Homo sapiens: one gene and its partners. The protein of the gene in region 3 interacts with the protein of the main gene of each other region in a pairwise test. Each region holds a gene or a part of one and is shown on either strand. Other genes may lie near its edges.

Region 1 (4,858 bases), on a different chromosome or scaffold from region 3:
GAAGAATCACTTGAACCTGAGAGGTGGAGGTTGCAGTGAGCCGAGATTGTGCCACTGCACTCCAGCCTGGGCGATAGAGCTAGACTCTGTCTCAAAAAAAAAACAAAAAACAAGTAACTCTTTATTCCTTGTGTGAAAATCCAGGGCTGTTAAAGTTTAGTGGCAGGAGGAGGAGTTAAGGTGATCTTGTGAGAAGAGTCATGCTGGTGACATCAGGAGGGGTACATGGCTGTGATGGGGGAGGTGGTGCTGCTGGACTGAGCCAGTGGAGGGGGAAGATCTGCAGCTAGCATAGTTTCATGCTCAGTGAGGATGATGGTCACCGTGTTTGTTGTGTACTTACTGTGCTGAGAGCTTTCCTCGCAGAGGCCCTCCCAACGAACAGCTCTCTCAGAAGCATCTGTTCCTTCCTGGTCACGAGGTGGCCAGAGCACAATGTATAGGCAGACCAGTGGTCCTTCCTCTCCCAATGTGGCCATGTGGAGGACAGGATGTCTTCCTGGGGGTTGGGATGGACTCTCTGGGCACTGTACTCTCTCTCCTACCTGCCTCCCTGCAGTCCCTCCCATGGATGACTCAGGCCTCCCAGAAGCAATTTCTATCTGTCCCCTTCACTTTCAGGCCTTGGGGAGTCTCTGCTCCTACCTGACTCTGTGTTGTAATTTCAGGGGAGCATCAGTGGAGGAGGCAGTGGGGGCAGCAGCAGCCTCCTGACCAATGCCCGCTCTTGGGGAGTGAGGATTCTGCACGTGGATGGTACCCTTTCTGTGCTGGGCTCCTGTGGAGGGAGAATTGGTGACTTTGACCAGGAGTGTCAGCTTTTAGAAGGATCATGGTCATGTGAGCTTCTGGTCACCGGAAGCCAGAAATACTCAGCTGCCATGTTGATCCACAAAGGTGGGAGGATGTGGGGAAGGGGGAAAGCGGTGAGGACGCAGAGTGCAGGCTGTGGCCTCGGCATCCCGCAGGAGGTCCCTAGAACATGCCGTTTCATGTCACCTGCTACAGCTCTCCCCCAGCTAGTATGATGATCCTGTTTTACAAATGCAGAAATGATCTTAATATTCATGACCACTGGCCAGGCGAGGTGGCTCACACCTGTAATCCCAGCACTTTGGGAGGCCAAGGCGGGTGGATCACAAGGTCAAGAGTTCGAGACCAGCCTGACCAACGTGGTGAAACCCCGTCTCTACTAAAAATAGAAGCATTAGCCGAGCCTGGTGGTGCGTGCCTGTAATCCCAGCTACTCAGGAGGCTGAGGCAGGAGAATCACTTGAACCCAGGAGGCAGAGGTTGCAGTCAGCCAAGATCATGCTACTGCACTCCAGCCTGGGTGACAGAGCGAGACTCCGTCTCAAAAAAAAAAAAAAATTCGGCCAGGTGCGGTGGCTCACGCTTGTAATCCCAGCACTTTGGGAGGCCGAGGCAGGCAGATCACGAGGTCAGGATATCGAGACCATCCTGGCTAACACGGTGAAACCCCTTTTCTACTAAAAATACAAAAAATCAGCCGGGCGTGGTGGCGGGCGCCTGTAGTCCCAGCTACTCGGGAGGCTGAGGCAGGAGAATGGCGTGAACCTGGGAGGCGGAGCTTGCAGTGAGCCGAGATTGCGCCACTGCACTCCAGCCTGGGCGACAGAGCGAGACTCCGTCTCAAAAAAAAAAAAAAAAATTCATGGCCACCTAACAGGTATTGACTCTGTGCTACGAATTACCTCATTTAATCCTCACTACAGTCCTGTCCCCATTATACAGATGAGGAAATTGAGCCTCAAAGGGATTAGGCAAATTGTCCATGGTCTCACCAGAGTGTGTAGTGTGGCCCACCACTCTCAGTTTTACTCAGCTGTAAATTTTGTGCTCCTTCTTTTTTCACACTGTAAACAACCTGTTTGCAGCCTGTTTACACTAGAATAGTTGTCTTGAACCAGGTGGCAGTGAGTGGTTTCATACCCAGCTCCATTCTTGAGTCTGGAGTTTTCTGTGATCCATTTTAGAGGATTGGTCCAGATGGGACAGCCCATAGGTGCTGACTGGGGCGCTGCCCCACCCCTTGGTACCAAGATCTTCCAGGGGAGTCTAGAGGCTGTACAGGGGAAGTTCCTGGTCTGGGATGTGGAGGGCTTCATCTCACTGAAAAATCAGCCATTTCTGACTTGATTTCCTTCCCTGCCTTTCTCTGTTAGAGGAGTGCTAGCATGTTTAGCCCTTGCTGGTCTTTCACCTGAGGGTACAGCTGAGTAGTTCACACAGCATGGCCTCCCTCACAGCCACAGCTCTTCAGTGGTGCCTTAAAGTCCTTAGCAAGCCATGAGGCACCTTCTGTTCAAAGATGAGTTGTATTCAATGCTGCAAAAGAGCATGACACCCGCTCAGGTGCTGTTCCAGGGATAGAGGACCCAGTCCTTAACCTCCGCTGTCAGGAGATGCAGAGGGGATGTGTAGCCAGAAGGTGGCAGGCAAGGCTGGAGTGATTCAGTGGGCTGGCCCAGCGAGTTTAGTCCTGCAGCCCAGGAAGGGGCTGTGCTAGGTAAGTGAAGACTGGAAGCCTTTGGCACAAACCCTCTGTCTTCTCCACAGAAATGATGATGCACGTGCAACAGCTGTCTCTTGCGTCTTTATGTGTGAAAAAACAACAGCCAAAGAAGCCAGAGGTAGGTCATCCTGCTGAACTGAAGGACAAATGGATGGTTTTCAATGAAATCAGTGACAACTTAGGTAAATCCATGGCCCACCCAAACCATCTCTTCCTGGCCATTCTGAAAGATGGAAGAGGAATGCAGCCTCTTATTTACCTCAGTCCTAGTGCCCATAGCTTTGCAACACCCTTTCTTCTCTCTTCTCTGTGGCACTTGCAGTCCTCCCATGGCACACACCCTGCTGAGACATCCCTATGGCCTGGACTGCCTGGGCCATGGGCTCCCTACAGTAGTTCTGGACCAGATAAAGTTCATAAATGCCCATGGCACTGACCAGGCTGCTATTCTGGAACTTTCCCTGTACAGCCTCTAGACTGGGAACGAGTCTGCATACTGCAGGGGTGAGAAGGAGTGATTGAAATAGCTGCCATCTTCTAAATCCTTGTTTGTTTTCCATTCTTTGCTGGCGTTAGAACTGTGTGTACTACATCAAGAGAGCCCAACCTGGTTTAAAGCCACAGTATCTTCACCCAAGCCTCAATCTGAGGAAGGATTAAATCTACAGATCTACCCACAGCCTGGCATCCAGGCACAGGACGAACAGTAATAGCTATTAGTTAACAGTGCTAATTAGCTAACAGAACTAGCAAGCCACATCCAAAGTGGATGGAGCAGCTGGGCATGGTGGCTCACACCTGTAATTCCAGCACTTTGGGAGGCCAAGGCCAGCAGATCACTTGAGGTCAGGAGTTCAAGACCAGCCTGGCCAGTGTGGTGAAACCCCGACTGTGCTAAAAATACAAAAATTAGCCGGGCGTGGTGGCACATGCCTGTAATCCCAGCTACTCAGGAGGCTGAGGCAGGAGAATCTTGAACCCAGGAGACATGTTGCAATGAGTCATGATCGCACCACTGCACTCCAGCCTAGGCGACAGCAAAATTCTGTCTCAAAAAAACATAAAAAAATAGTGGATGGAGCATTCAGACACTGACGCCCTCTCCACACCCTCTCCTCTAGGAGTGTTGGGGACATTGCTGCTGTTAAATTTGTGTTATTCAAAATTCAAAAGGGTATACAACAAAAATTCTCGCCCTGCTCCAGCTTCTCCTCAACCACTGACCTTCCTCCCTGAAAGTGTGAACAGTTTCTAGGACTCTATGCACATAGAAGCAAATATGTCAAAAATTCCCCCCTTCTATGCAGATACACAGCATTTTTACTTTAACTTAATCAGTTTTGTAGGCCGGGCACAGTGGCTCACGCCTGTAATCCCAGTAATTTGGGAGACCGAGGCAGGTGAATCGCTTGAGGTCGGGAGTTTGAGACCAGTTGGCCAACATGGTGAAACCCTGTCTCTACTAAAATACAAAATTAGCCATGTGTGGTGGCGCATGCCTGTAATCCCAGCTACTTGGGAGGGTGAGGCAGGAGAATCGCTTGAACCCTGGAGACAAGTTGCAGTGAGCTGAGATCACACCACTGCACTCCAGCCTGGGCAACAGAGTGAGACTCTGTCTCAAAAAAAAGAAAAAAAAATTAGTTTTGTAGATATCTAGCAGTGAAGTGAGTTTTGGGTGTAATGTGCTGATACGCAAGGGAATGTGAGAGGCTTCTTTGGATTGTGTTTGCCCCCAAGGTGTGGCCTAGAGGAGAATCTGGAACTTCTTAAGGCCCAGAGGCACAGGTGGTCATGGATCCACCATCATCCTGGCCCTCCAGCTAAAGCTGATTTTTTTATTTTATTCCATTTATCTTACATTTATTTACTTATTTTTCAGGTATATACCAGAAGATCCATTTACTCTTTTTTCTTTTTATTTTATTTGTTTATTTTACTTTACTTTTTTTGTGAGACAAGGTCTGGCTCTGTCGCCCAGGCTGGAGTGCAGTGGCGCCATCTCTGTTCACTGCAACCTCCACCTCCTGGGCTCAAACCATCCTCCCACCTCAGCCTCCCAAGTAGCTAGGACTACGGGCATGCGCCACCATGCCTGGCTAATTTTTTTTTTTTTTTTTTAAAGATAGGGTCTTACTATGCTGCCCAGGCTGGTCTCAAACTTGTGAGCTCAAGCAATCCACCTGCCTCGGCCTACCAAAATGTTGAAATTACAGACGTGAGCCACCACGCCCGGCCTCCATTTACTTTTTAATATCAGCTTTGTTTGACCTTGGCTTAAACATTGATTTTGACCCACAGGATCAGAGTACACAAGATAGG
Region 2 (5,319 bases), on a different chromosome or scaffold from region 3:
GAGCAACACCCTGTCTTAAAAAAATAAATAAACCTCTGATGACAACCCAAACCCCAATTAGTTCCCCATGTCCCATAGGTCTGCAGGTCTGCATTAATAAAAGCTAGCAGCCATAACATAAATCCTGAAACCTCATGGCTCAACCCAATAGAAGCTGGACTGTTGGTCAGATAAAATCCAGTTGGCTGAGATGAGGGCTCTGCTCCATACTGTTATTCAAGGATCTATGGTGACAGAGGCCCTGCCTTCAGCAGGTAGTACTCAAGCTGCCTTGGGCATCAACATCATAAGTACGTGGGGAGAGAAAGAGGGGGCCACCTGTGGGAGGCTTTGATGGCCTCAACCTCAAAGTGATACACAGCATTTCCCTCCACACCCTCTGGCTAAAGACTTGTATTTCAAGAGAATCTGAGAAGTAGAGTCTAGCTGTGTGTCCAGGGCGTAAAGGAAACATTTAGTGACAGTTGGTCTCAGATACACAAGGGCATGGGAAGACCAGCCTGACATCTTCCTGGGCTTCATGGCCTGGAGTTTGCAGGGTAGCCCACCTCCAGCTCCTGAGCAGGGTACTCAAGAGCCTGCACATTCCAGCTCAACTGATCTTTCCCGAGTCTTCTCTGTCCCTTACCAAGAACCCTGAGCCCAGAACACACTCGCCATTCCCCAAAGGAGGCAGGCTGAGCCACACCTTCGCCTTTGCCCTAGATGGGCCTTCTGCCTGGAATCCTGTGCCCTTTCTCCTACTCTCTCGGAAGCTGTCTTCCTTAGCCATCAGAATTATTCCTGATTCGGGCCAAGCACAGTGGCTCACACCTGTAATCCCAGCACTTTGGGAGTCCGAGGCGGGTGGATCACCTGAGGACAGGAGTTCGAGACCAGCCTGGCCAACATAGCGAAACCCGGTCTCTACTAAAAATACAAAAACTAGCTGGGCGTTGTGGCATGTGCTTGTAATCCCAGCTACTAGGGAGGCTGAGGCAGGAGAATCACTTGAACCTGGGAGGCGGAGGTTGCAGTGAGCCGAGATCGTGCCACTGCACTCCAGCCTGGGCAACAGAGCAAGACTCCGTCTCAAAAAAAAAAAAAAAGAATTATTCCCTATTCATGTTTCTCTGGGCTGCTGTAACAGAAATCGGCTCTGGGCTGTATAAGCAAATGGAAGTATGAAGAGCAGCTCACAGGTGGAAAGGGATGGCCAGAAAACCGGGTTCAACCGGGGCAGGAACCTGGCAGCTGGCGGAGGGAGTGTGGCCCAGGCAGCAGCCTCCTCAATAAACAAGCGAATGCTCACTCCTTGCCCAGAACTGTCTGGCTCAACCCCAGCCATTTTTCCTCCTCTGCAATCAGGCTGCTAAGAATCAGAATCCCTGAGAGAAAATTCAGGGGGTCTAAGGTTTGTCAGGATTCTCAAACACAAGGTGTTCAAAATCAAAGTTAACCTTCCAAGCTAGCTTCTCCCACTCTTCCACATCTCTGCCAGTGGTATCACCCCGGCCATTAGCCCCTTGCTTCTTTCTCCCTCCCTCCCACATTACCAAGCCCTGTCAAGTCGACCTTGGAATGGCTTTGACCCTGTCCACCACTCAGCCAAACAACAGCAACGGCCGGCCCCGTCGCCACCCGCCTCGGCAGCCAGAGACCTTTTAACTCTGCCACTCGCCTACTTACCACCCTTCTAGGGTGCCCACGTCCCTCTGAAAAAAAAGGCTGAGCTCAGACTGGCCTCTGGTCAGCCTCCTCCCAGCCAGAGCTTTCTGTCACTGCCCTTCTAGGTGTTGAGTGGCTCTGCTTCCAGTTCTTGCCTGGAGACCAGGAGCGCCCGGGAGGCCCCAGCACTTTCCAGCCCACATAGACCTGCGTGCACCTCTGCCTCGTCTCCCTGAGCCCGGGCTGCCTCCTCTGTAAGATACATGCCACATAATGTCCGCCACACATGATCGCTGTGACAGTGGAAATAGCTGGGCGTTCAGCGACTCATTCGACAAATGTTTACCAGCACCTTTGGTACCGGGCGCTGTCCTGGACACTGGGGACACAGCAGGCAAACGGGGCCCTGCGTATAAATCCTTAAGCTCAAGAAGGAGGTGGGGGCAAAACTGTCAGGCCGGGAAGCTCTTCATCTCCGCAGGATTCTCCCTCAACCTCAGGACGTCCCCAGCACCGCACCTGCCAGTCCCAGACTCGGACGCCGCAGACCTGTGGGAGCAGCGCGGAATGCCCCGCCCCTTTTCCCGAGGACACCCAATGAGGGCGAGAGGTCACTTCCGGGGAGGGTTCGCTAACGGAAAGGGCGGGGCATCCCTCTCGAGGAGCGGCCTTGTTCCTCAAGCGGCCGCTGGGGGCGCCAGAGCAGGACCGGAGCGCGGGCCAAGCTGGAGGTGAGCGAGGCCGCGCCCCCCTGGGCCCCGGCCCTCCCAACGCGCCCTGACGGCTGGGCTCCGCCTGACCCTGTCCTAGCGTTCGCGGTGGCACCAACCTCAAGCCAGACCCTTGACTTCGACCCAACTCCACTCACCCGACTCCACTCACTCCACACCCCATGCCCCTCCCCCGACGCCCCTCACCCCGCCTCACCCTTCACCCCTCATCGCTCACGTCACCGCTCACCCGCCTCCTCACCCAGCCTCGCCCCTCACCCCTCACCCCGCCTCACCCCTCACCCCGCCTCACCCCTCACCCCTCATCCCGCCTCACCCCTCACCCCTCATCCCGCCTCACCCCTCACCCCTCCTCACCCCGCCTCACCCGCCTCGCCCCTCACCCCTCACCCCTCCTCACCCCGCCTCACCCCTCACCCCTCACCCCGCCTCACCCCTCACCCCGCCTCACCCCTCACCCCGCCTCACCCTTCACCCCTCACCCCGCCTCACCCTTCACCCCTCACCCCGCCTCACCCCTCACCCCTCACCCCGCCTCACCCTTCACCCCTCACCCCGCCTCACCCTTCACCCCTCACCCCGCCTCACCCCTCCTTACCCCGCCTCACCCGCCTCGCCCCTCACCCCTCATCGCTCACGTCACCGTTCACCCGCCTCCTCACCCAGCCTCACCCCTCACCCCGCCTCACCCCTCACCCCGCCTCACCCCTCACCCCTCCTCACCCCGCCTCACCCCGCCTCACCCCTCCCCCGCTCCCCTCACTGCACACTCCATACCCCACTCTCCCCACCTTACATCCCTCACCTCAGTCCTTCACCCCCTTAACCTAATCTCCATGTCCTCACACCATACACTCCTGATCCTGAAGTCTGCACACCCTGGGCTTCTCATTCCGTGCAGCCTGCCCCTCTTACCCTCACACCTGCCACACCTGGGACCCCGGAGTCCACACACCACCTCACACCCCAAGTTCCCACACGCACCTCTGGCTTCCTCCACCTGCACTTCAGGACCCGCCCAGACTCTTCATAGCCCAACTCCAAGACTTCTCTCCCACATCACAGGTGCATTCCCTTCCTGTGCTGCTCTCATCCCGTACAAAAGAGCACATCTCTGCACCAAGCATCCCTCTTATCCCCTCACATTCCTTGTTCTCAGAGGGATCCCAGACTCTGTTAGAAACTCTTCGTACCAGGCAAGACACTCAGACCACAAACCAGACTCTAGGCTCTGACTCGCTCAACCCCCGTCCTTCACACCTAAAGTGATACCCAAGCCAGACCCTACACTCCCGCCCCACGCTCCCGCCCCACACTCCTCCCGCCCCACGCTCCTCCCGCCCCACACTTCCGCCACCCATCCTAAGCTCCGTTCCATTGTGCTTTGGTGCGGGCTCAGGCCTCTTTCTCCACCCGTTCCCAGTCATCCCAGGCAACCTCATTAGGCAAGAAATGCCGTGAATTCTAATCCTGTGGCTGCTTCCTCCACATCAGCTCTCACACCCTCTCCCTGGATCTCCTTTTCAGATCCATCCCTCTTCTGAGATCCAGTGCCACTCCGGCCCAGCCTCCATCCTTCTAGCAGTCTCATGCTCTATCCCCAAATCTACCTGTGGCCACCCCAACGCCCCACTTATAGAAACTACATGTCTTTTCTATGCCTCTGCTTCACCCCAACCATCAACCACCCCTTAAGCCACTCTCATACTTGTGCTCTCAGTGTCCTTACCTTGTCCATCCACTGCATGTATGTTTACGTTCCCAGGCCTTCTACACTCCATCCACTGTCTCTGTGCCGTCTTAGGGTCCTGAGGACACTGTGGCCATGTGGCCTCAGTCACATGCCTAGGTGCCCCTAGGGAGGCATGCAGCTTTGATAAAGCTTTATCGTTCTCCTCAAACCAAGAATGTCTGTTGTTACAAGAAGAAACTTTTCATTGCCATTTATTAGGGAGTTAGAGACCATCGGGCCTGAAATCCCCCCCTTGCCATCCTACCTTGACCTCTACCTACCTTATTCTATCTCTACCTCCTTACCTTCCCTTACCTTCATAGGGTGAAATGACCCCTTACTTGTCTGAGACCAGTCCCTGCACCATCAGTTGCCCTTTCTTCTGATTCTTCAGGCTTTTCTGTCCAGGTAGCTCTTTCCACACAGCCTAGAAACGAAGAATTCAAAAAACAAAAAACCTTGACTCTGTATCACCTTCTAGTTACCTCCTGTTTTTTTCTCCCCTTCCCATCTAAATCTGTACACACAATCCATTTTGTCTAATGATCCATTAATTATTTAATTCATGAAATATTTTTACTTTTATGGCTCTCCTGAAACGTCTCACCGAGTTGACCAGTGACACCCAAATCAAATATCTTGAATTTACTGAGCCCTTTTTTTCATTTTGCAGAGGGGATCTTCCAGATCTTCCTCTGTAGCCTAGTCTAGAGTGCTGTGGCACAATTGTCCCACCTCACCCTCCTGAGTAACTAGGACTGGAGGTGCGCACCACCACACCCAGCTATTTTTAAATTTTTTTGTAGAGACTGTTGCCCGGGCTGGTCTGAAACTCCTGGCTTCAAGCATTTCTCCTGCTTTAGCCTCCCAAAGCACTGGGATTCCAGGCATGAGCTACCATGCCTGGGCCTGCCATGCCCAAATACTGTAATCTTTGACACTGGTGTAATATCTCCCAACTTAAAATAAAATACCCCTGTGACTCTACATTACATTCCAGGTACTGGCATGTTTCTCTGCTTCTCTTTGAAGTAAAACTCACCAGTTTCTACTTCTCCTTCCCTCTCTTTAGAAACATTTCGATTGGGCTCTTGTTCCAGCCACTCCATGAAAACAGCTCCTGTCAAGATTGCCAGTGTGACCTCCAGATTGTCAAATCCAGTGGTTACTTTTTATTTATTTTTGTTTTTGTTTTTTTGGAACAGAGTG
Region 3 (5,490 bases):
GACATTCGAGACCGGCCTGGCTAACATGTCGAAACCCCGTCTCTACTAAGAATACAGAAATTAGCCGGGCGTGGTGGTGGGCGCCTATAGTCCCAGCTACTTGGGAGGCAGGAGAAACACTTGAACCCGGGAGGCGGAGGTTGCAGTGAGCCAACATCGTGCCATTGCACTCCAGCCTCGGTGACACAGCGAGACTCTGTCTCATTAAAAAAGAAAAAAAAAAGTGCAGACTACATAAATCTAAAGAGACAGAAAGTAAATTAATATTTGCCTGGGGGTGGGGTGGCCATGTACCATGTATTTAAAGTGTGCAATTCATTGGTTTTTAGTATATTCAGAGTTGTGCAACCATCAGCACAATTTTAGAACATTTTCAACACCTGGCCAAAAAAAAAAAACAAAAAAACCCATACTCATTAATAGTCGCTGTCCTTTCTCTCCCAACCCTTCCCCACCCAGCTTTCTATGGATTCGGCTATTCTGGATATTTCACGTAAATGGAAACACAATTATGTGGTCTTCTGTGATTGCAGCTTCTTTCACTTAGCATAATGTTTTCAAGGTTCATCCATGTCATAGCGTGTCTCAGTACTTCATTTCTTTTTACTGTCAAGTAATATTCCACTGTATGGATAATATCACACTTTATGCATTCGTGTAGTTTCTCTACCTCCTTCCCAACTCTTGTCTCTTTTTTATTGTAGGTGTGAAGTGGTGTCTTCAGTAGTTTTGACTTGCATTTCCCAATGGCTAATGATACGGAGCATCTTGTCATGTGCTTGGTGATCATTTATATGTCTTCTTTGGAGAACTGTCTATTCAGATCATTTTTGTATATGGGCTGAGATAGGGAACCAGATTCATTCTTTTACATGTGGATATTCAGTTGTCCCAGTACCATTTGTTGAAAAGATTATTCTTTCCCCACTAATTTGTCTTGACACCCTTGTTGAAAATTAGTCGACCATTTCTGGTTTCTCAGTTCTATTCCATTGAACTAGATGTCTTTGCTTACAACATCTTGATTACTGTAGCTTTCTTTTTTTAAAGTTAAAAAATTTATAAAGTAGAAGTGGGGCTCAGGCTCGTCTGGTGGCCTAGGCTCGTCTGGACCCCTGGCTGCAAGTGATCCTCCCGCCTCAGCCTCCCAAAGTGCTGGGATTACAGGCGTGAGCCTCTGGGGCCTGGCCACAATTGAGTTTTGTTTATTGATCTCGTATCCTGCAACTTTGCTATGAGTTCTAACCTTGTCTTAGTCCTAATAGTTGTTTAATGGATTCCTTAGGGTTTTCTATATACAAGGTCATGTCATCTGCAAATAGAAATAGTTGTACTTCTTCCTTTCCAATGTGGATGCCTTTTATTTCATCTTATTGCCTCATTGCCCTGGCGAGAGCCTCCAGAACAATGTTGACTAGAAATGACAAGGGCCCATGCTCATCTTGTTCCTGACTTAGGGGAAAGCTTTTAATCTTTCGCCTTTAAGTCTGATGTTCGTTGTGGGTTTTTCATAGATGCCCTTCATCAGGTTGAGGAGGTTACCCTCTATTCCTAGTTTGTATGTTATTATACTTTTAAATAGCAGCAGCAGAGCATGTAAGAAGATATGAATAAATACATGGCGAGAGGTTCGCAGTTGATTAAGTGGGGGGAAGAGTTTACTCCATTCATCGTGAATCTGATCTCTGTGAGTAGGAGGATGTGTTAGTTGAACAACTTTAAAAAAAAAAAAAAAAAAGAGGGCGAGGTGGGTGGATCACGAGGTCAGGAGTTTGAGACCAGCCTGGCCAAGATGGTGAAACCCCGTCTCTACTAAAAATACAAAAAATTAGCCAGGCAAGGTGGCGGGTGCCTGTAATCCCAGCTACTCTGGAGGCTGAGGCAGGTGAATCGCTTGAACCCAGGATGCCGAGGTTGCAGTGAGCAGAGATCGCACCGCTGCACTCTAGCCTGGGCGACAGAGCAAGACTCTATCTCAAAAAATAAATAAATAAAAAATAAAAATAGAGACAGGGTCTTGCTGTATTGTCCAGGCTGATCTCGAGCTCCTGGACTCAAACCATCCTCCTACCTTCGCCTCCCAAAGTGCTGGGATTACAGGTGTTAGTCACTGCCCCCAGCTTGAACAAACTTTGTAAGATGCAGGCTATTGTGCAAAATTTTAGCACTGTAAAAAATATCCCCTTATTTTATCAAATATACCTTTATCTTGAGGCATATGTCTATTTTCACCTACTTGTAACTTACACTCTTGATTACTTTTGGTTGTCTTTTTACTCTTGTTCTAATTATCTTTTTTTTTTTTTTTTTTTGAGACGGAGTCTCACTCTGTCGCCAGGCTGGAGTGCAGTGGCGTGATCTCGGCGCACTGCAACCTCCATCTCCCGGGTTCAAGCAATTCTCCTGCCTCAGCTTCCTGAGTAGCTGGGACTACAGGTGCCCACCACCATGCCCAGCTAATTTTTGTATTTTTAGTAGAGACAAGGTTTCACCATGTTGGCCAGGATGGTCTTGATCTCTTGACCTCATGATCTGCCCTCCTCGGCCTCCCAAAGTGCTGGGATTACAGGCATGAGCCACCACGCCCGGCCCTAATTATCTTTTATTGTACAGAAGCATTTTATTTTCATCAGAGTACATTCATCTTGATTGAGATATTTTACAGTAGTTTCTCTCCCCATGCTGGCTGGGCGTGGTGGCTCACGCCTGTAATCCCAGCACTGTGGGAGACTGAAGCAAGCAGATCACCTGAGGTCAGGAGTTTGAGACCAGCCTGGCCAACATGGTGAAACCCCATCTCTACTAAAAATACAAAAATTAGCTGGACATGGTGGCACACACCTGTAATCTCAGCTACTCAGGAGGCTGAGGCAGGAGAATTGCTTGAACCTGGGAGGCAGAGATTGCAGTGAGCCAAGATCACACCACTGCACTCCAGCCTAGGTGACAGGGCAAGACTCCCGTCTCAAAAAAAAAAAAATTATCTTCCCACTATAGTAAGAAAGTAACAGCGTTTTATGACTTGGAAAGTGTCTTCATATAAAATCTTATTTGAATCTCCCAAAATATAGCAGAGATGATCCCCATTTTACAGATTAAAATATGGATACCAGAAATGTTTGAATCATTTGTCAGGATATTGGCAGCAGAGCAGGGGCTAAGGGCATGCTATCTTTTTAAGGCACTTCATATTAATTTTTGTATTTATATACAAAAATTATACACTCCTTGACTCCTTGACTTCGTCGAACATATGACATTCAAACATATCAATAGGGTGGAGGAGAATCCAAGGATAGCTTGCCACTGTATTCATTTCTTATGGCTGCCATAACAAGTTACTGCAAGCTGGGTGGCTTAAGACAAGAGAAATTTATTCCATCACAGTTCTAGGGGCCATAATTCCAAAATCAAGATGTCAGCTTGGTTCCAAAGACAAGGGATTGTTGCTTCTTGGAGGCTTAGACGGGGCCGTTACTCCGCGCATCTCTCCCGGCTGGATGGGTGGCTGCCGGCAGTCCTTGGCATCCCCTGGCTTGCAGCTGTCCAAGTCCAGTCGCTGCTTCTGTCTGCACCTGGCTGTGTGTCTGGATTAAGGGCACACCCTATTCCACTATGACTTCATCTTAGTGACATCTTAAATACTTCTCCAAAGACCCTAATTCCAAACAAGGTGACATTACAGGTACCATGGTTAGGACTACAATGTATCTTTTTATTATTACTATCTTTTAAAGGGATAGGGTGTCACACTGTCATGTAGGCTGGAGTGCAATGGCACGATCGTAGCTCATGCAGCCTCAACCCCCTAGGGCCTAGCGATCCACTCACCTTAGCTTCTCGAATAGCTGGGACTACAGATGTGTGCCACTATGCCGGGCTAAGTTTTTAATTTTTTTGTAAAGACGGGGTCTCCGTGTTGCCCAGGCTGGTCTTGAACTCCTGGCCTCAAGCAATCCTCCCGCCTTGGCCTCCCAAAGTGCTGGGATTACAGCATGAGCCTCCAGGCCTAATGTATCTTTTGAGGGGGCACAGTTCAGCCCACAGCAGCCACTAACAGAGTTCTCTTCTGTCCTCGCTCCCCCACCAGGTGCCCCTGTAGACAATGGCCCTCGTGTCTGCCGATTCCCGCATTGCAGAACTTCTCACAGAGCTCCATCAGCTGATCAAACAAACCCAGGTAAAAAGTCACCACCCTCCATTCCCAGATGGGAACATGGGCTTTGATGCTGAGCCGTGAAGTGGGGGTGGCATTTGTGTTCAGAGAGATTGGACTCGCAGGAACCAAAATGACGTAATAAAAGTGAAAGGAGGGGAATTTGGTGTATGGCTACCATTCCTGTTGGATTTTCTACCATGTACAGGATTTCATGATTCATTTTGTTTGACAGCTATCCTGAGATAGAATTCACATGCCATACAACGCACCCATTTAAAGTGTATAATCCAGTGGTTTTTCGCAGCTCACAAAATTGTGCAACCATTAGCACGATCAATTTCAGAACATTTTTAACACCCAACAAAAATGCCCCATATCTTTTCCTTCCACCCTATTAATCCAGGCAAACAAAAACACTCTTTTTTTTTTGGAGACGGAGTCTCACTGTGTCACCTAGGCTGGAGTGCGGTGGCGCGATCTCAGCTCACTGCAACCTCTGCCTCCTGGGTTCAAGCGATTCTTCTGCCTCAGTCTCCCTAGTAGCTGGGATTACAGGCACACACCACCATGTCCGGCTAATTGTTTTTGTATTTTTAGTAGAGACGGGGTTTTGCCATGTTGGCTGTCTCTACTAAAAATACAAAAATTAGCTAGGCTTGGTGGCGGATGCCTATAATCCCAGCTACTGGGGAGGCTGAGGCAGGAGAATCACTTGAACTCGGGAGGCAGAGGTTGCAGTGAGCCGAGATGGCGCCACTGCACTCCAGCCTGGGTGACAAAGCAAGACTCCATCTCAAAAAAAAAAAAAGCCATTTTTCCCCTATTTGATATCTTTTCTTTCACAGATACAAGGGAGATGCGTATTGGTGCCTGTAGCTCACTGCAGGCTATCGGGCATGCTCTGCCACATTTTGCCCACGATACTCAGGGTTTATAGCTACACAAGGATCAGTTTGCTGGCAGTTGTGCACCGCACAGCCAGGAAGGAGTAGATCCCAGAAATTCCTTCCCAAATGGTATTCCTTTTAGACGTAACCTGGAGAGTAAGAGTCAGAAGATGCCGGCACTCATTGCTAAGTGAAAGATGCCAGTCTGAAAGGTTACGTGCTGTGTATTCCAACTGTAAACGAAAAGCAAAACTAGAGAGTGAAAGGATGAGCGGTAGCCAGGGCCTTGGGAGAGATAGGATGAAAGGGATGGATAGGTGGAGCACAGAGGATTTTAGGGGGTGGAACTCTTCTGCAGGGTACCATGATGGGGGGCACGCAACATGATGCGTTGTCCAAACCCATAGAACGGCAGAACACACAGAGTAAACCATCATGGGGATG
Region 4 (4,858 bases), on a different chromosome or scaffold from region 3:
ACCAGCATGGGCAACACAGCGAGACCCCTGTCTCTACAAAAGAATTATTTAATTAGCCAGGAGTAATGGTATGTGCCGTCATCCCATCTACTCTGGGGCTAAGGTGGGAAGATCACTTGAGCCCAGCAGCTGGAGGCTGCAGTGAGCTGTGATCACTGTTACCTACTGCAGTCCAGCTTGGATGACAGAATGAGACTCTGTTTCTAAAATTTAAAAATAAATAAAAAATAATAAGATTAGTACAGGTGAGAGCAAGCCTTACACAGGGAATAAACAGGTTGGTAGAAAGTAATCGGGGAGGGATGCAAGGGTTTCAAGATTAACTGGAGAAAGCCACCTTGCAGACATGAGACTCAAGTTGAGAACTAGAAAATGAGAAAGGCTGATGTATGTGAAGAGCCCAAGGAGGAGAATTCCAGGCAGGGGAAGCAGCAGCAAGTGCAGAGTCTCCTGGATGGGTCAAGACTTCGTATGTTCACCCACCAGGAAAGAGATGAGTGTGTCTGTCCCTGGGACATGGCGGGACAAGGTGAGGAGTCCGCATTGTACTCTAACACAGTGGGAAGACTGGAAGGGTTCCCATTAGGAAGTGCTATGACCTGGACGCTTCAGATGTGTCTGATGAACAGACTGGGGAAAGACATTGGGAGGCTCCTTCAAGGCCCAGGTGAGAGGAGATGGAGGTGAGAGGAGATGGATGAGAACCATAAACAGATTCATTTAGCACCGATGCACTGATACTGTCAATAGCCTCCAGCGGTGTCATAGGCTTGAAGGCAACACATATCGTGCACACATCTGTAGATCGCCTACTACATGCCAGGCCTTGTATTTTCCTTCTGTTTGTTTCGGCTCCCTAATGTTCCTATTTAATATTAATATTTTCAGTTTGTAAATGAAGAAACCTCAGAGAGATTGATTTTCAAATCAAACTCCTGCCGATGCCACAGCTGATGGTCTGGTCTGTACAGCCCTGCAGGTACAGCTGCTCGGCAATGTGTATTGCATGGCAAAAAAAGGAGGAGCTGAGCATATTGCGCAGAGCACGGGAGGGTCTTTTGGCCCAAAATGACACCCCTGCATGTGGACCAGAGTAGTATTTTCGCCCCATAGGAACTAGAGGTGTTAGCTAAGCTAGGGATGGATGACCTAGGGGGATGAAAACACATTTTGTCAGTGTCAAGTTTATATCAGCAGAGCCACCCTGTGCTCCTAAGTCACACCTCGCAGGAATGGGAGGCAGAAAGGTTGCATTTAGAAGGAAAGGATTAGCTCTGGAAAGTGAGTTTGGACATTGAGGCTCCCCAGATCCATAGGGATGATGGATGTTGGCAAGGACAATGGTCACAATATAAGTAACAGATACCGATAACACTGCCTAGCATTTATTGAGTGCCCACTATGTACTAAGTATTGAGTAAATGTTCCAGAGCTGTTATCTTATGGTGGTATTTCTTAAATTTCTCATAACGATCCTATGAGGTAGGCTGCTTCACTGTATTTCCTCGAGTATACAAAGCCATCAATTCAATAAAAGCTTTTCACATCAAAACATATTAAACTTACACAACGAAGTTTTGTTGTGTCATGCTTTTCCTAACAAAATATAGAACATATTCATAACATAACCTCTTTATTCTTCAGGATGATAACGCAAGTTTGAATCGAAGCCTAGATATTCAGAGTCACAGAGTCTCCATGCACAACTGCTAATTGTAAAAAATATATATATAATAAAATTAAAATTAAAAAACAGAGTCAGAAAGTTTCTGGCTCCCTTTCAGCTGTGCCCATGCAGTTCTCCATGTCCCACCTGGGATTTCTTTAGCCCCTTTAGGATGGATGGTATAATTTAGAGCTCAGCGAAGAACAGAGGCTCCTTCCACATCTCCTGTTTTATTAAACTTGTGGCTTTCCCCTTCTTAATTGGATATCTGTCTTTTGACTAAGAAATACTTCACAGTGCATGACAATCACCAACCTTTCCTAGCTTTGAAAATTGTGTGATCTAAACTTAGAGATTTGCCTGAATCTGCACATGTGCTGGCACTGACATCCCAATTTCTCCTGTCTGGTGACTGACAAGGTTGTTATTGTTTAAGCATTGATTATTAGATGCTATCCTATTACTTTAAAAAAAAAATGTGCCCAGTCCGGTGGCTCACGCCTATAATCCCGGCACTTTGGGAGGCCTAGGCAGGTGGATCACCTGAGGTCAGGAGTTCGAGACCAGCCTGGCCAACATGGGAAAACCCCATCTCTACTAAAAATACAAAGATTAGCCAGCCAGTCATGGTGGTGCTCACCTGTAATCCCAGCTATGTGGGAGACTGAGGTGGGAGAATCATTTGAACCCGCGAGGTGGAGGTTGCAGTGAGCCAAGATCATGCCACTGCACTCCAGCCTGGGCAACAGAGTGAGACTCTATCTCAAAAAAAAAAAAAAAAAAAGTTTAAGGGTGTCTTAGAATTAGTTTGTAACACTGAAGGTTAAAGATATTAAACAGTTTACCTTCCATGTCATAGCTGGCAGGTGATGTAACTAGAATGCACACCAAGTCGGCTGGGTACTTCTCAACATTAAGGCTGTAATGACTTTCTCCTTCTTTCTCTCTTGAATCTTCTCAATGAGGCCTTCCTTCCACCATTCCTCCAAAACTGCTCTTGTCAAGGTTACCAAAGATCTCCACATGGCCAAATGCATTGACTAATTCTCAATTGTTATCTTACTTTCAGCAGCACTTGACAACTTTTTTTTTTGAGACAGGAACTCAGTCTGTTGCCCAGGCTGGAGTGCAGTGGCGTGATCTCAGCTCACTGCAACCTCCGCCTCCTGGGTTCAAGCTATTCTCATGCCTCAGCTTCCTCAGTAGCTGGGACTACAGGTGCGTGCCACCATGCCCAATTTGCCTGGCTAATTTTTTATATTTTTAGTAGAGACGGGGTTCCACCATGTTAGCCAGGCTGGTTTCAAACCCTTGACCTCAAGTGATCTGCCCACCTTGGCCTCCCAAAGTGCTGGGATTACAGGCTTGAGCCATTGCGCCTGGCCATTTGACACCATTTTTAGGAAACAATTTCTTGACTTGGCTTTCTTAGGTCTTCTATATCGACATCACCCTGAAAACCTTCTCTGCTGCTCTTTTTCACTTCTCCTAACCTGCCTGACCTCCAGATGCCGAGTGCTCCATGTTAACCATCCTCAGGCCTCTCTTGTCTTTCTGCATCCGCTCTTTGGTGACCCCATCTAGTCTCATAGCCACTTCCACACTCCCAGCTCTGACAAGTGCATCTGCAGCTCCCAGCAGCTGCCCACTCACCCTCCTGCCTACTCTCCATCACTCCCTGGATGCCAAATAGGCTTTGCAAACTGAATGTCTTCAACCAAACTCCTCTCTTTGGCATTGTCCCTGACTCCTCTCTTTCGCTCACTCCCTACATCTGATCCTTTAGCAAGTCCTGTCAGCTCAACCTCAAAATTACATTGAAAACTGTTTTTTAGAGACAGGGTCTCACTGTGTTGCCCAGGCTGGTCTTGAACTCCTGGCCTCAAGTGATCCTCCTGCCTTGGCCTCCCAAAATGCTGGGATTACAGACGTGAGCCACCACCACATCTAAATCCACAACTACCACCCTAGACTATTAGCCTGTAATTGGCCACCACTTCTATCCCCCGTCTCCTCAATAAGCTTCTTCCCCACCCGGAAGCCAGAGTGACCTTCCCCAACCTAAGGCAGATCAAGGTGTCAGCTGCTTAAAGCCATCCAGGGGCTCCTTGTCTCAACCCAAGCAAAGCCAGAGCTCTTTGAGCTGCACAGCCTCCTTGTTCTCTGATGTCTGCTGGCTCCTGGTTTCTGTTTCTCCTTCCCAGCCTTGCTAATTGTTCTCCAGCCAGGCTGCTTCCCATGTGGGTCTCACACAGCCAAGCCCCCTCTGCCTCAGGGACTCAGGCTTTTATACTTGGGGTTTCTTCTGGTACCCCTCTCCCCCTAGATTTTCATATGACTTGCACCTCATTTTCTTTTCTTCTTCTTCTTTTTTTTTTTTTTTTTTTTTTTTGAGTCAGGCCCAGGCTGGAGTGCAGTGGCACAATTGTGGCTCACTGCAGCCTTGATCCCCGGGGCTCAGACGATTCTCCCACCTCACCCTCCCAAGTAGCTGGGATTACAGGTGTGCACCACTACGCCCGGCTAATTTTTGTATTTTTAGTAGAAATGGGGTTTCTCTAAGTTGCACAGGCTGGTCTCGAACTCCTGGACTCAAGCAATCTGCCCACCTCAGCCTCCCAGAGTGCTGGGATTACAGGTGTGAACCATCATGCCTGGCTGCCCCCTCATTTTCTTGAAGCCTTTTAAAATGCTACCCTAACAAAAGAAGACCTTCCTGCATAAAACAGCCACCTCCCAGAATTCTGTTCTGTCCTCTCTGCTCCAGTTTCCCCCGCAGCACTGGTACCCGCAGCACTGGTACCCGCAGCACTGGTACCACTTGCTATAGTATACATTGGTTTGCTTCTGGCCTCTCCACACCACTGTAACCCTAAGTTCCAGGAATGCAGGGACTGTGACTGTTTTAGTCACTTGCTGGGTCCCGAGTGTTTAGAGTAGAGGCTTGCATGAAGTGGGCTCCCAGTGAATGTTTGTTGAATTATCAGACAAAGGAAGAAGGAACGGAGCACCCGGTGGTGGAGACAGTGCTGGGCTCTGACATGTGTTTCTCTACTGCCCAGATCTGGAAGTCGGAATCAGCACTGTGCTGTGACCACTCCCACCCACGCTGACTTCTGTCTTGTGTCTTCTTCCAGGTCTACGGCTCTCGCAGGCTCTGTGAGGGCTTTGCTATGACCTCAGTCCCCTCAC

The links.
Region 1: the proteins of SGF29 (region 3) and DBF4B interact in binary tests that used the Homo sapiens proteins (3 or more experiments, as listed by UniProt).
Region 2: the proteins of SGF29 (region 3) and SYCE3 interact in binary tests that used the Homo sapiens proteins (3 or more experiments, as listed by UniProt).
Region 4: the proteins of SGF29 (region 3) and LZTS1 interact in binary tests that used the Homo sapiens proteins (3 or more experiments, as listed by UniProt).

What each region holds. Positions count from the first base shown.
Region 1 is NC_000017.11:44,731,510-44,736,367, forward strand, and holds part of DBF4B (protein DBF4 homolog B), read left to right. Parts: exon of another isoform or gene 1-668; coding exon 669-756; exon of another isoform or gene 757-840; intron 841-2,580; coding exon 2,581-2,654; exon of another isoform or gene 2,655-2,672; intron 2,673-4,858. UniProt on the Homo sapiens protein: Regulatory subunit for CDC7 which activates its kinase activity thereby playing a central role in DNA replication and cell proliferation. Required for progression of S and M phases.
Region 2 is NC_000022.11:50,559,917-50,565,235, reverse strand, and holds the start of SYCE3 (synaptonemal complex central element protein 3), read left to right. Parts: upstream 1-2,316; 5' UTR 2,317-2,378; intron 2,379-3,157; exon of another isoform or gene 3,158-3,443; intron 3,444-5,319. UniProt on the Homo sapiens protein: Major component of the transverse central element of synaptonemal complexes (SCS), formed between homologous chromosomes during meiotic prophase.
Region 3 is NC_000016.10:28,576,965-28,582,454, forward strand, and holds part of SGF29 (SAGA-associated factor 29), read left to right. Parts: intron 1-4,090; 5' UTR 4,091-4,105; coding exon 4,106-4,180; intron 4,181-5,490. UniProt on the Homo sapiens protein: Chromatin reader component of some histone acetyltransferase (HAT) SAGA-type complexes like the TFTC-HAT, ATAC or STAGA complexes.
Region 4 is NC_000008.11:20,255,261-20,260,118, reverse strand, and holds part of LZTS1 (leucine zipper putative tumor suppressor 1), read left to right. Parts: intron 1-4,803; 5' UTR 4,804-4,858. UniProt on the Homo sapiens protein: Involved in the regulation of cell growth. May stabilize the active CDC2-cyclin B1 complex and thereby contribute to the regulation of the cell cycle and the prevention of uncontrolled cell proliferation. May act as a tumor suppressor.